2 separate regions of the Homo sapiens genome follow, and region 2 is linked to region 1. A link means that fine-mapping ties the variant in region 1 to the expression of a gene that starts in the linked region. Tissue or cell type: whole blood. Region 1 holds a variant in brackets; the other region holds the start of a gene. All regions are shown on one strand. Distances are from middle to middle.

Evidence for each region. PIP is the estimated chance that this variant, and not a neighbour inherited with it, causes the effect.
Region 2: it holds the start of ADRM1, and the variant in region 1 is fine-mapped to the expression of ADRM1 in whole blood (INTERVAL, PIP 0.94).

What each region holds. Positions count from the first base shown.
Region 1 is chr20:62,225,756-62,230,768 of GRCh38, reverse strand. LOC105369209 (a long non-coding RNA gene) reads right to left here and starts at 2,526. Exons shown (of 4, transcript NR_160555.1): 1 at 2,468-2,526. RefSeq lists an enhancer at 1,763-2,663. The variant G/C (reference allele first, on the strand shown) is at 2,781.
Region 2 is chr20:62,300,368-62,305,380 of GRCh38, reverse strand. It overlaps ADRM1 (ADRM1 26S proteasome ubiquitin receptor), which reads right to left and starts at 2,384. Exons shown (of 10, transcript NM_007002.4): 1 at 2,332-2,384; 2 at 1,600-1,813; 3 at 804-920. The coding sequence starts at 1,812. RefSeq lists silencers at 2,275-2,734, 2,755-2,874.

The sequences.
Region 1 (5,013 bases):
GTCCCAGGCACTCTCCCCTGCTCCCCCAGGGACAGCCCAGGTGGGACAGCTTGTTCCCTTGTTTTCTGGTTGTGTGTGTGAGTGGAAGTGTGTGTGGCAGAGTGTGTGTGTGAGAGTGTGAATGTGAGTGTGTAGTGTGTGTGTGGCATTGTGGGAGTGTGTGTGGAAGTGTGAATGAATGTGTGTGTGAATGGAAGAGTGTGGAATTGGGGGAAGTGTATGAGTGAGCGTGTGTGAAAGTGTTAGTGTGTGTGAGTGGAAATGTGTGTGAGTGGAATTGGAGTGTGTGCGTGTGTGGAAGTGAATGAGTGTGAGTGTGTGAGTGGAAGAGTGTGTGGAATTGGGAGTGTGTGTGTATGGGTGTGTTGAGGGTGTGAGTATGGAAGTGAGTTTGTGTGTATGTGTGACTGTGTGAGCATAAGTATGTGGAATGGGGGAAGTGTGTGAGAGTGAGTGTGTGTGGAATGGGGAAGTGTGAGAGTGAGTGTGTGTGTGGAATGGGGAAGTGTGTGAGAGTGAGTGTGTGTGGAATGGGGGAAGTGTGTGAGAGTGAGTGTGTGTGGAATGGGGGAGTGTGTGAGAGTGTGTGTGGAATGGGGGAGTGTGAGAGTGTGTGTGTGTGGAATTGGGGAAGTGTGTGTGTGAGTGTGTGTGTGGAATGGGGGAAGTGTGTGAGAGTGAGTGTGTGTGTGGAATGGGGGAAGTGTACGTGTTTGTGAGTGTGTGTGGAATGGGGAGAATGTACGTGTTTGTGAGTGTGTGAGTGTGGAATAGGGAAGTGTGTATGTGTTTGTGTGTGTGTGGAATGGGGAGAAATGTGTGTGTTTGAGTGTGAGTGTGTGAGTGTGGAATGGGGAAGTGTGTATGTGTTTGTGTGTGTGGAATTGAGGAGAAGTGTGTGAGAGTGAGTGTGTGTGTGGAATGGGGGAGTGTGTGAGAGTGTGTGTGTGGAATGGGGGAGTGTGTGAGTGGAATGGGGAAGTGAGTGTGTGTGGAATGGGGGAAGTGTGTACGTGTTTGAGTGTGTGTGGAATGGGGAGAATGTACGTGTTTGTGAGTGTGTGAGTGTGGAATGGGGAAGTGTGTATGTGTTTGTGTGTGTGGAATGGGGAGAAATGTGTGTGTATTTGAGTGTGAGTGTGTGAGTGTGGAATGGGGAAGTGTGTATGTGTGTGTGGAATTGAGAAGTGTGTGAGAGTGAGTGTGTGTGGAATGGGGACAAGTGTGTATGTGTTTGAGTGTGACTGTGTGTGTGTGTGGAATTGGAGAAGTGTGTGTGAGTGTGAGTGTGGAATGGGGAAGTGTGTGTTTGTGTGGAATTGAGGGGAAGTGTGTGTGAGTATGTGTGAATTGAGGGGAAGTGTGTACGTATTTGAGTGTGAGTGTGTGGGGAATGGGGGGAAGTATGTTTGAACGTATGAGTCTTTGAGTGAGTGTGTGCGGGATGAGTGTGTGTGTTGAGTGTGGGGGATGAGTGTGTGAGTGTGTGGGATGAGTGTGTGTTGAGTGTGTGGGGGGTGAGTGTGTGGGTGTGTGGGATAAGTGTGGAGTGTGTGTGAGTGTGGGTGAATGTGTGGGTGTGTGTGAGTGTTGAGTGTGTGAGTGTGTGGGATGAGTGTGACTGAGTGTTGAGTGTGTGTGTTGAGTGTGTGAGTGTGTGTGGGGTGAGTGTGAGAGTGTTGAGTGTGTGAGTGTTGCGTGTGCGAGTGTGTGTGGGATGAGTGTTGAGTGTGTGTGTGTATGGAAAGGCGTGTGGGCAGCAAGTGACAGTGATTCGTGCCCAGACCCAGGGGAGGGGAGTCTGCCTCTAGAGCAATTGTCGCCCCCTGCCCTGGCTCAGGGCCTTGTGGAGGGAGGAACTGTTTCTCCCACCCTGACCTGTCCCTTGCAGGGCAGAAGGGGACAGTGTCAGTTTCCTCCCGACACCTCTGTCACAGCTCGCACCAAACACCCTCAGACACACCCGCAGACCCACAGACGCACGTGCACACACACATAGCCCAGAGAGACACGCACAGACATACCCGGATGCACAGAGACGTGTACACTGACAGACGCAGACATAGACACACGCACGCACACGCATGCATTCTTTGCCTGCTGCTTGGGAGCCCCCATCCTTCCTCCCCCAGCACACGGGGGCGGCCACATTCACTGGGTCCCGGCCCCAGCACTGATCAAAGCTGGGTTAGTTTTTCCAGCAGGCACCAGGTCCCCAGGAGCTGCCCTGGATCTGCGGGACTCCAGGGAGTCAACAGAGAGGGTCGTCCCCGTCCCTGTCCCCATCTCTGTCCTCGTCCTCGTAGGGCCCAGACTCCCCCTCCAGGACGAGGCTCCCTGAGCCCACCTGCACTGCTCAGCTCCTCCACGTGGCGCCTCTTCCCGACCTTCTGCAGGGGAAGAGGACCCAAGGCTCCAGGAGGGGTCAGGGCGCTGCGTTTGCCCTAGGGGTGAGGGCATACACTACCTGGGACCACGGCCAGCAGCTCTGGGAACAGCACAGGCAATGGGAAGACCTGGAATAACCCTGAAGGCTTCTGGGAGGAGGCACCCATAGGGGAAGGTGCCGGGTGGGGCAGAGCGTGAGGGGCGTGTGTCTGGGGAGGGGCATGGAGGTGCAGGAGGTGGGGACAGAGGGAGGAGGAGGGGCCACCTCCTCACCAGGCTTCAGGTTCCAGGGTAAGGCTGGCCTCTCAGCCTTACCCTGAGAACGGATCCAGGCGGCAGCCAGATGGAGACCGGCCTGCACAGTACTCACAACGGGCCTCCAGTGTGCCCCC[G/C]CCGTGGCCATCCTTGCTTCCTCCCCAAACAGACTACCCCACCCAGGCGGGAGGCAGGGGGTGGACAGAGACGGGGCTAGCCCTCCAGCAGCCCTGGGCGGTGAGCACAGGTGTGCTGGCCACATGTCCCACGTTCTTGTCTGTCGCCCTCCACTAGATCCACCAGGCCCCTGCCTATGCTGACCTCAGCTGCTGGAGGGGAGGGCCCCAACGGCCTGTGTGTGGAGCAGCCAGGAGCACGTGGCCCCTGGCTGGCCTGCCTAGCCTTGCGCCCTGGATGGGGGCCTGCAGGATGGACCGGGGTCACCAAGCCTGGTCCCCACTTGGTGGGGGACCTAGGCTGAGGGGGTGGGCAAGGTATTCAGGGCAGACACCAGCCGGGTCTCAAGGCACCCTGGCATGGGAAGCAGGAGGAGCTGGATGCCAACCAGCTTGACGGTCCAGACATCCCCCTCCCCCAGGGCCTGTCCCTACCTCTGGCCTGGCCCAGCGGCCCCCTGGCTTGATGCTTACCACTGTCCAGGGCCTGATTCACCCCCAGGCACCAGCAGGGATCGGGGGTCATGGCCTGGGTTTGGCTCGGAGGCCCCCCAGGCAGTGCTGCTCTGTTGGATCATAGCCACAGGAGGCCCCACCAAATGCTCTTACGGATGGGGCGAGGGCTCCTGGGCTGGGGCTGGGTCCCCCACAGCTGGACTTGGGTTTGGGGCTGGGTCCCAGCTGCCCTGGAGCCCTCTCGGCCTTTCAGAGGGTTCTGGAAAAGCACAGTGGAGACCGTTCTGCTTTCTGTCTTCTTTTCTGTTTTCTCTATCACGTCTTCATGCCTAGCCCACGGAGGGAGGCTGCACAGATGCAATCTGTTCCATTCATTCAGCGAATACTTCTCAGCCAGCCCTAGGAGGTGCACACTGCACGCCAGCAACAGTCTGGCTCACACGGAGGGACTTTCCGGGGAGGCAGGAGCTCCTTTCCTCCGGCAAAGATTTTTTATTCCTCCAGTTCTCCGGCAGCCTCTGCACTCACCGGGCTGTTGACCCTCAGATCAGACCTGGGTTCTCAAGACCGCCTCCAGGCACCACCTCCTCCAGGGAGCCTTCCCGGGATCACTCCTTCTCTCGTGCTTGATGTCTCCACCGGGCGCCATCCTTAGGAGGGAAGAGCGCTGGGTCAGGCTCCATTCAGTTCTGCACTCTCCCTGCCCCAGCCTCTGCCCTCGGACCCAGGCCCCAGGGCTCAACAGGCCCCCAGTCTCAGCAGAAGGAGCTGAGGTGTGATTGGAGCTTGGTTTTCTGGGGGCCGCTGTCCTGGCCTGTGGTGTGGGTGTGCCCCTGCCTCTTTATTTATTTTCTGTAGAGACAGGATCTGTCTGTGTTGCCCAGGCTGGTCTTGGGCTCCTGGTCTCAAGCAATCCTCCTGCCTTGGCCTCCTGAAGTGTTGGGATTACAGGCATGAGCCCCCACGCCCAGCCTGCGACCCTGTCCCTTAAGCTGGCTGTATCAGCCCTGGGTGAGCAGGGAGCAGACCCCGAGCGGGCTGCAGGCTTCCTTCCTACGGATGGACCACGGGTGGCTCCACAGCCATCCTGCCCGGGCCCCTTGAGACCTGCCAAACTGCCATCACCCATCACTGCCCCTCTCCCTGCTCTCTCAGCCTCACTTCTCACAGCAGCCAGGGAACAAGAGAAGCAGATGCCCCGAGAGAAGGTCATCTCTGCAGTCGCACTTTCCCTGCCGCCCCAACCACGGCCAGGCTCTCTGTGCCCAGGCCCACTGTCCCAGCAGGATGGCACTTGGACCCCTGAGGCATTGCTGGGGGATTAAGCAGGGGCTCCTCGCGGGGACCTCAAAGCAGCTTCAGGGATGACCACCACTACTCCCCCTCCACTCCTCGTGCATCCTCAGCCAGGGTTTGAGTCCACCGTTGTGAGCTCAGGCATCACGATTGCCCAAGCCAGGCCAATGCCAGGCCAAAGCAGCTGATCCTGGGGTTCTGTTGGCTGAAAGGCAGCCTCCTCTCCTGCCTGGGGATGGAGGAGGGGACAGGGGAGTCACTTGGAGCTGCAGGGAGAGACCTCAGGGAGATAATCCCTGCCTGAGGATGAAGTGCACACAGGATAAGACGAAATGGAGGGAGCAACTGTACTTGAGCCCAGATGCAGCTGTGCCTGAAACTCACTGCCCCTGGACTTCGTGGGCGTAGGAAACAGCACCTGCTCCTTGTCCTTAGGCCCTTT
Region 2 (5,013 bases), 75 kb before region 1:
CAGCAACACAGACCATGTGCTCCACAGAGACCTCAGCCAGGGCCACCCCTGCTCTTGAAAGTGCCAAGGGGGGTGGGGTGGGGACAGCAGCTCCACCTCTGGCAGAGAGCATGGCCTTCTCTCTCCACACTGCAAACGCATGCACACGCTTCCTGACCACAGGCCCGCCACCAGTTTTCACCTACAGATGATACTGGCTTATGGAAAATGATCTGTGTACCGGGAAATTCTTTGCAACACTGCCTGTAACAGCACAAAAAACGGCAACAAGCTCAATGGTCACTGACAGATGGCAGAATGAGCAGCGGCCTCTAGACCCAAAAGACGCTCTGCAGCTGTGGGTAAGAGAAACCCTGGGCACTGACACCCCTGGCCTCCAGGACACACTGCCAGGGAAGGGGCAGGACTGTGGAAAGTGTGAGCAGGATGCTTCGTTTCTGTGAGCACCAGCAGGGAAGCCACACAGGGGCCTCTGCCTCTGCTGTGGGGGCCTCAGTGACCCACGGCAAGGGGCAGAGAGAGGGCACTGGGCATCGTTAGAACCAGGGCCAGCATGTCTGTCTGCCTGGAAATTTCACACCGCAATCGGTTGCCCGCAGCCCAGCCTGGAGCCTCCGTACTCTGGGAGAGGACCTCGGCCCCAGGTAGCATGCACCGCAGCCCTGAGGTGGCATCTCAGGCCGTGTGGCCGGGTGTGGCCGGCGCCTGCTGGTTTATAAAAGCCAATTGCACCACACTGTAAGCAAGTTCCTAACCGAATCGCAGGGCAACAAAAAGGCACAACCCCAAGGCCTGCCCCATACCTGCATCCAGAAGAAAAGCCGCTTGGACCCTGCCTTGAACTTCAGCACGTAGACCCTCCCGCTGGGGCACTGCGGCACCCGCTTGAACTCACAGTCGTCAGGGAAGATGATCAAGTCCTGGCAAGCCAGGGGAAGAGAGAGTCAGTGGCGCAGATGGCATCACTGTGCCCAGTCTCAGGAGAGCGTACTGAGCCCTGGGTCTAACCGGGTGGGGTGCGCAAGGGGCAGCTAAGCCGCCAGACCCCTCGCTGGCAGGGTCTCCACAAGGCAGAGAAGCCAGGGTCAGAGACAGCCCATGAAAGGCAAGGCCGGGGGAGAGAGCAGGGAAAGGGGCCTTTCAGATGGCAACGGGGTTTCTGAGACGTGCTGGAAACAACATTCCCAGAGTAGTTAAAAAGTCAACGCTGAACTGCTCTCAAATGTAACAAAGAACAACTAAGAGTTTGAAAAACAAAGAAGACTGAGTGAAGCCGCCAGGCACAGAGCTCCAGGCTCTCCAGGGCCACACCTCCAACCCCAGGCACCTCACACGGACAGTTCAAGGCCAGGCACAGAGCTCCGGGCTCTCCAGGGCCACACCTCCAACCCAGGCACCTCACACGGACAGTTCAAGATACACAGTGGCCGAGATGCCCCTGTCACCGCGGAAACCAGGACGACCCATCAGCAGGGCAGTCGATGACGGCCCCACGAGCGGTCCCCAGATGCGGCCAAGCCCCCACCGCGAACTCCAAAGCGAGGACTCCGAGGGCCCGAGAAGTCGCCTGTCCTGCTGCTGCGGCTCAGGGACACTCACGTCTTCCACGTTCCCGGACGTCCTGTCCTTCCAGCAGAAGTGAATAAGCGAGTCGTCCGTCTGCTGAATGTACACCAGCCCTTTCCGCTTATCCGGAGTCACGGTGGTCCCCTTCAGGGACATCTTTCCCGCCCGAAACTCCACCAAGTACTTGTTGGAGGCGCCCCGAGAGCCTGGCACCAGGCTTGGAAAGAGCGCGCCTGAGGTCGTCATCCTGAAAGCGCGGAGAGGACGCTGAGACGCGGCGGTCACTGTCGCCTGCGGTCCGGCAAGCTCCCGCCCCCTGGGGTGTTTGCGAGCAGGGGGCCTGCGCCCAGAGCTGCCTAAGGCAGACTCAGACACGCCGGGCTGCCTTTCCGCGTTTGCCCCGCTCACGACGATCGCACCGCCCGCACTCGGCGCTGGGCCGGGGCAGCCCCGCCAAGCCTAGTGGGGCCGGCCCTAGGCTTGACGCCGTCTCCGCGGGGCACCAGCCTCGACGCGCCACCCCGGCGACCCGCTCCGCGGGGCAGACCCGCCCGAGCTCCCGCCGAGCCCCACGTTCAGAGCCGCAGGCGGAACCGGGGCGGCGCCCGAGACCCCAGAACCCCCGCCCGGCCCGGCCCCCGCAGGCCCCACCCGCCGCGCCGGCCACCTTCTCGTCTTGGCTGCCCCCGCCCCATCCTTGGTCCAGCAGCCCCTGCCCCCGCCTCCGGTCGCCCCCGGCCGCCCCAGGCCCGGCGACTCCCGCACCTGCCTCGCGCCCACACTCGTTCGAGAGGCGCCGTCCGGGCTCGCTCTTCCTCCTCGGCGCCTGCCGGGCCCCGCCGGAAACCCGCGTTCGGCCCGCCCCGCCTGCCGCTCTCGCCGCCGATTGAGCCCCGTAAGCCGCGCAGCCGGCTCTAACCTGCCAACGATTGGCGAGGGCGACCGTCCATCGCACTCGCTCCTCCCCGGTCCGCCCCCGCGCCGGCGGCTCTTTTCCGGCGGAAGCGCGGGCCGCAGGGCGCTTGGACCAGAGCGGCCCCTATTGTTGCTGTGTCATAGGGGAGCGGCGGCGGCCCCTAGAGGCGGCGCCAGGGACCACAGGCGGGTTTCAGAGGGGCGCTGGGGAACTGCTCAGGTGGGGCCGAGCCCACCCCTCGGCGTCGCCCGCCCGGGCGGGCAGAGCTGTCACTCGTGTGGCTGAGCCAGGGGTTAGGCGGAGGCCGAGGAGTGCGGTCCGGCTGTGGGCGGCGGGCACCAGGGCTACGCATAGAAGTGACCATGGGTTCAGCGCTTTGGGGACCCAGGCGGGAGCTGGAGTCCACGCGTCCGGGAGAGCAGGGGTCCGGGAGGGTAGAGCGAGGGTGAGAACCGTGATATGGTCTCAGCTGTATACATCTAGTCCCGCAGGGGTCCGGGAGGGCAGGGGTCAGGAAGGGGTGGGTCCGGGAGGAGAGGGGTCCCGAGAGGGGAGGGGCTCCTGGAGGGGAGGGATCTGGGAGGGGTGAGTCCGGGAGGGGAGGGGTTCCCGGAGGGGAGGGGGCCCGGGAGGGGAGAGGGTCCCGGAGGGGAGGGATCTGGGAGGGGTGAGTCCGGGAGGGAGGAGTCAGGGAAGGCCTGAGTCCCAGACGGGTAGGGTCCTGGAAGGGAGGGGTCCTGGAGGGCAGGGGCTCACCCTCTGGACGCCTGGATGGGAAAGGCCACAGGGTAAAAAGGCGGCAGTCGCCCGCCAGTGTTGTGTAACTTTGAGTCACTTTGACACAAACTAAAGCGAAGACAACAGATAGTGTTTGTGGCGCCCCAGCCGGCTGCTGAAGGGACACGTTCTTTGGGATTTGCCTACAGCGACGCCAGGCGGGGGCTCTTAGAGGGCTCAGGCGCGGTGGCTCACGCCTGTAAACCCAGAACTTTGGGAGGCCGAGGCGGGCGGATTACTTGAGGCCAGGAGTTCAAGACCAGCCTGGGCAACATGGTGAATGAAACCCCGACTCTACTAAAAATGCAAAAATTAGCCAGGTATGCTGGCACATGCCTGTAATTCCATCTACTCAGGAGGCTGATGCACGAGAATCGCCTGAACCCGGGAGGTGGAGGTTGCAGTGAGCCGAGATTGCACCACTGCACTCCAGCCTGGGCGACAGAGGAAGACTCCTTCTCAAAAAAAAAAAATAATAATAATAATAGTAATAAAATAGAGAGGTCAGGCGCTTCGTGAGAACCCTGAGGTGCAGTGGCCTCTGCACCCCAGTTAAGCAAGACTAGATGTTTGCAGCTGAGACTGTGCCAGGGTCCTCAGGTTCTCCTTTGCCCATCGCTCACTTCCTTCTTTCCTTCAGATACTTCACTCCCTTCGGGCGCTCCCCGGGGTCACCGTGTGCTTGGTGGCTCACCCTCAGAGTGGATGCACAGCTGTGTGCTTACGTGCTCTCTGAGGTCTTTAGGTGTGTGTTTTCACTCACCCTTGTTGGGAGATGCGTTGGTGTTGATGCTGGCAGCTCCAGTCCTTTCATTCTGCAGGGAGCCTACTACTCAGGCCTCCATTGTCTCGGTGGCAGAGCTTGTGCCAGTTATGTTTAGTTGCCAGCTTTTGACTGTCATAATGCTTCCATTTGAAACATTGATTGAGCTAAAGATTCACGTTTTTTGTTTTGGAAAATGTAGCCACTTTTCATTTTAAAATGTGTGTTAACAGGTAGTAAGTTTGTTATTGTTATTTTTATGTAGCTAAATAATTTTAAATGTCCTCTTAATTCCTAGTATGGTAAATGTCAATAGATAAAGCTCACATAAACAAAAGCTCTTTGGGGTCCTGTATAATTTTTAAGAATTTAAACGGTTCCAGAAGCTAAAGGGCTTGAGAGGGGCTAACACAAAGCTCTGTGGCCCGCTGGTGACAGGTGCGTCACTGATACTGCAGCCCCATCCTCGTGCCCTCGTGTAAAACAGGGAAAAGGTGGAAATGAGAAAACCCAGCCTGGCTTTCCCGGCAAGAAGGTGGCAAGCGTCACTTGTTTATGTCACAGACAGTAAAGCAGAAGCCCCAGGGTCCGCAGGGGCCAAGTGTGCAGAGGCCAACGCAGTGGCCAAGAGGACCCTGGATTTACCATTTCCTCCACTTCCTGGAGGCCCTGTGGCCTGGGATGGCTCAAACAACCCCAGAACTCTTTACCCACACTTCAAGCGAAACTCCCACATTCCTATGAGCATGCTGCAGTGAGGAAACGAGCCGCAGCCAGGCAGGCTTTGCAGAGGCCACTGTGGGTGCCCGCTGCCAGCCCACGGGCTCTATGCGTGTGTGGGGTATGGCACCTGGAGCACCCAGCAGCCCAGGACTCCAGCTGTGGCCACAGAGTGGGTGGGGGGGCACACGCTGCTTTGTGTCAGGAATCTCGGACTTGAAGCACACACAAGGTCAGAAGGGCTGTGTGACATGTGCAGCTGTCCCTATCT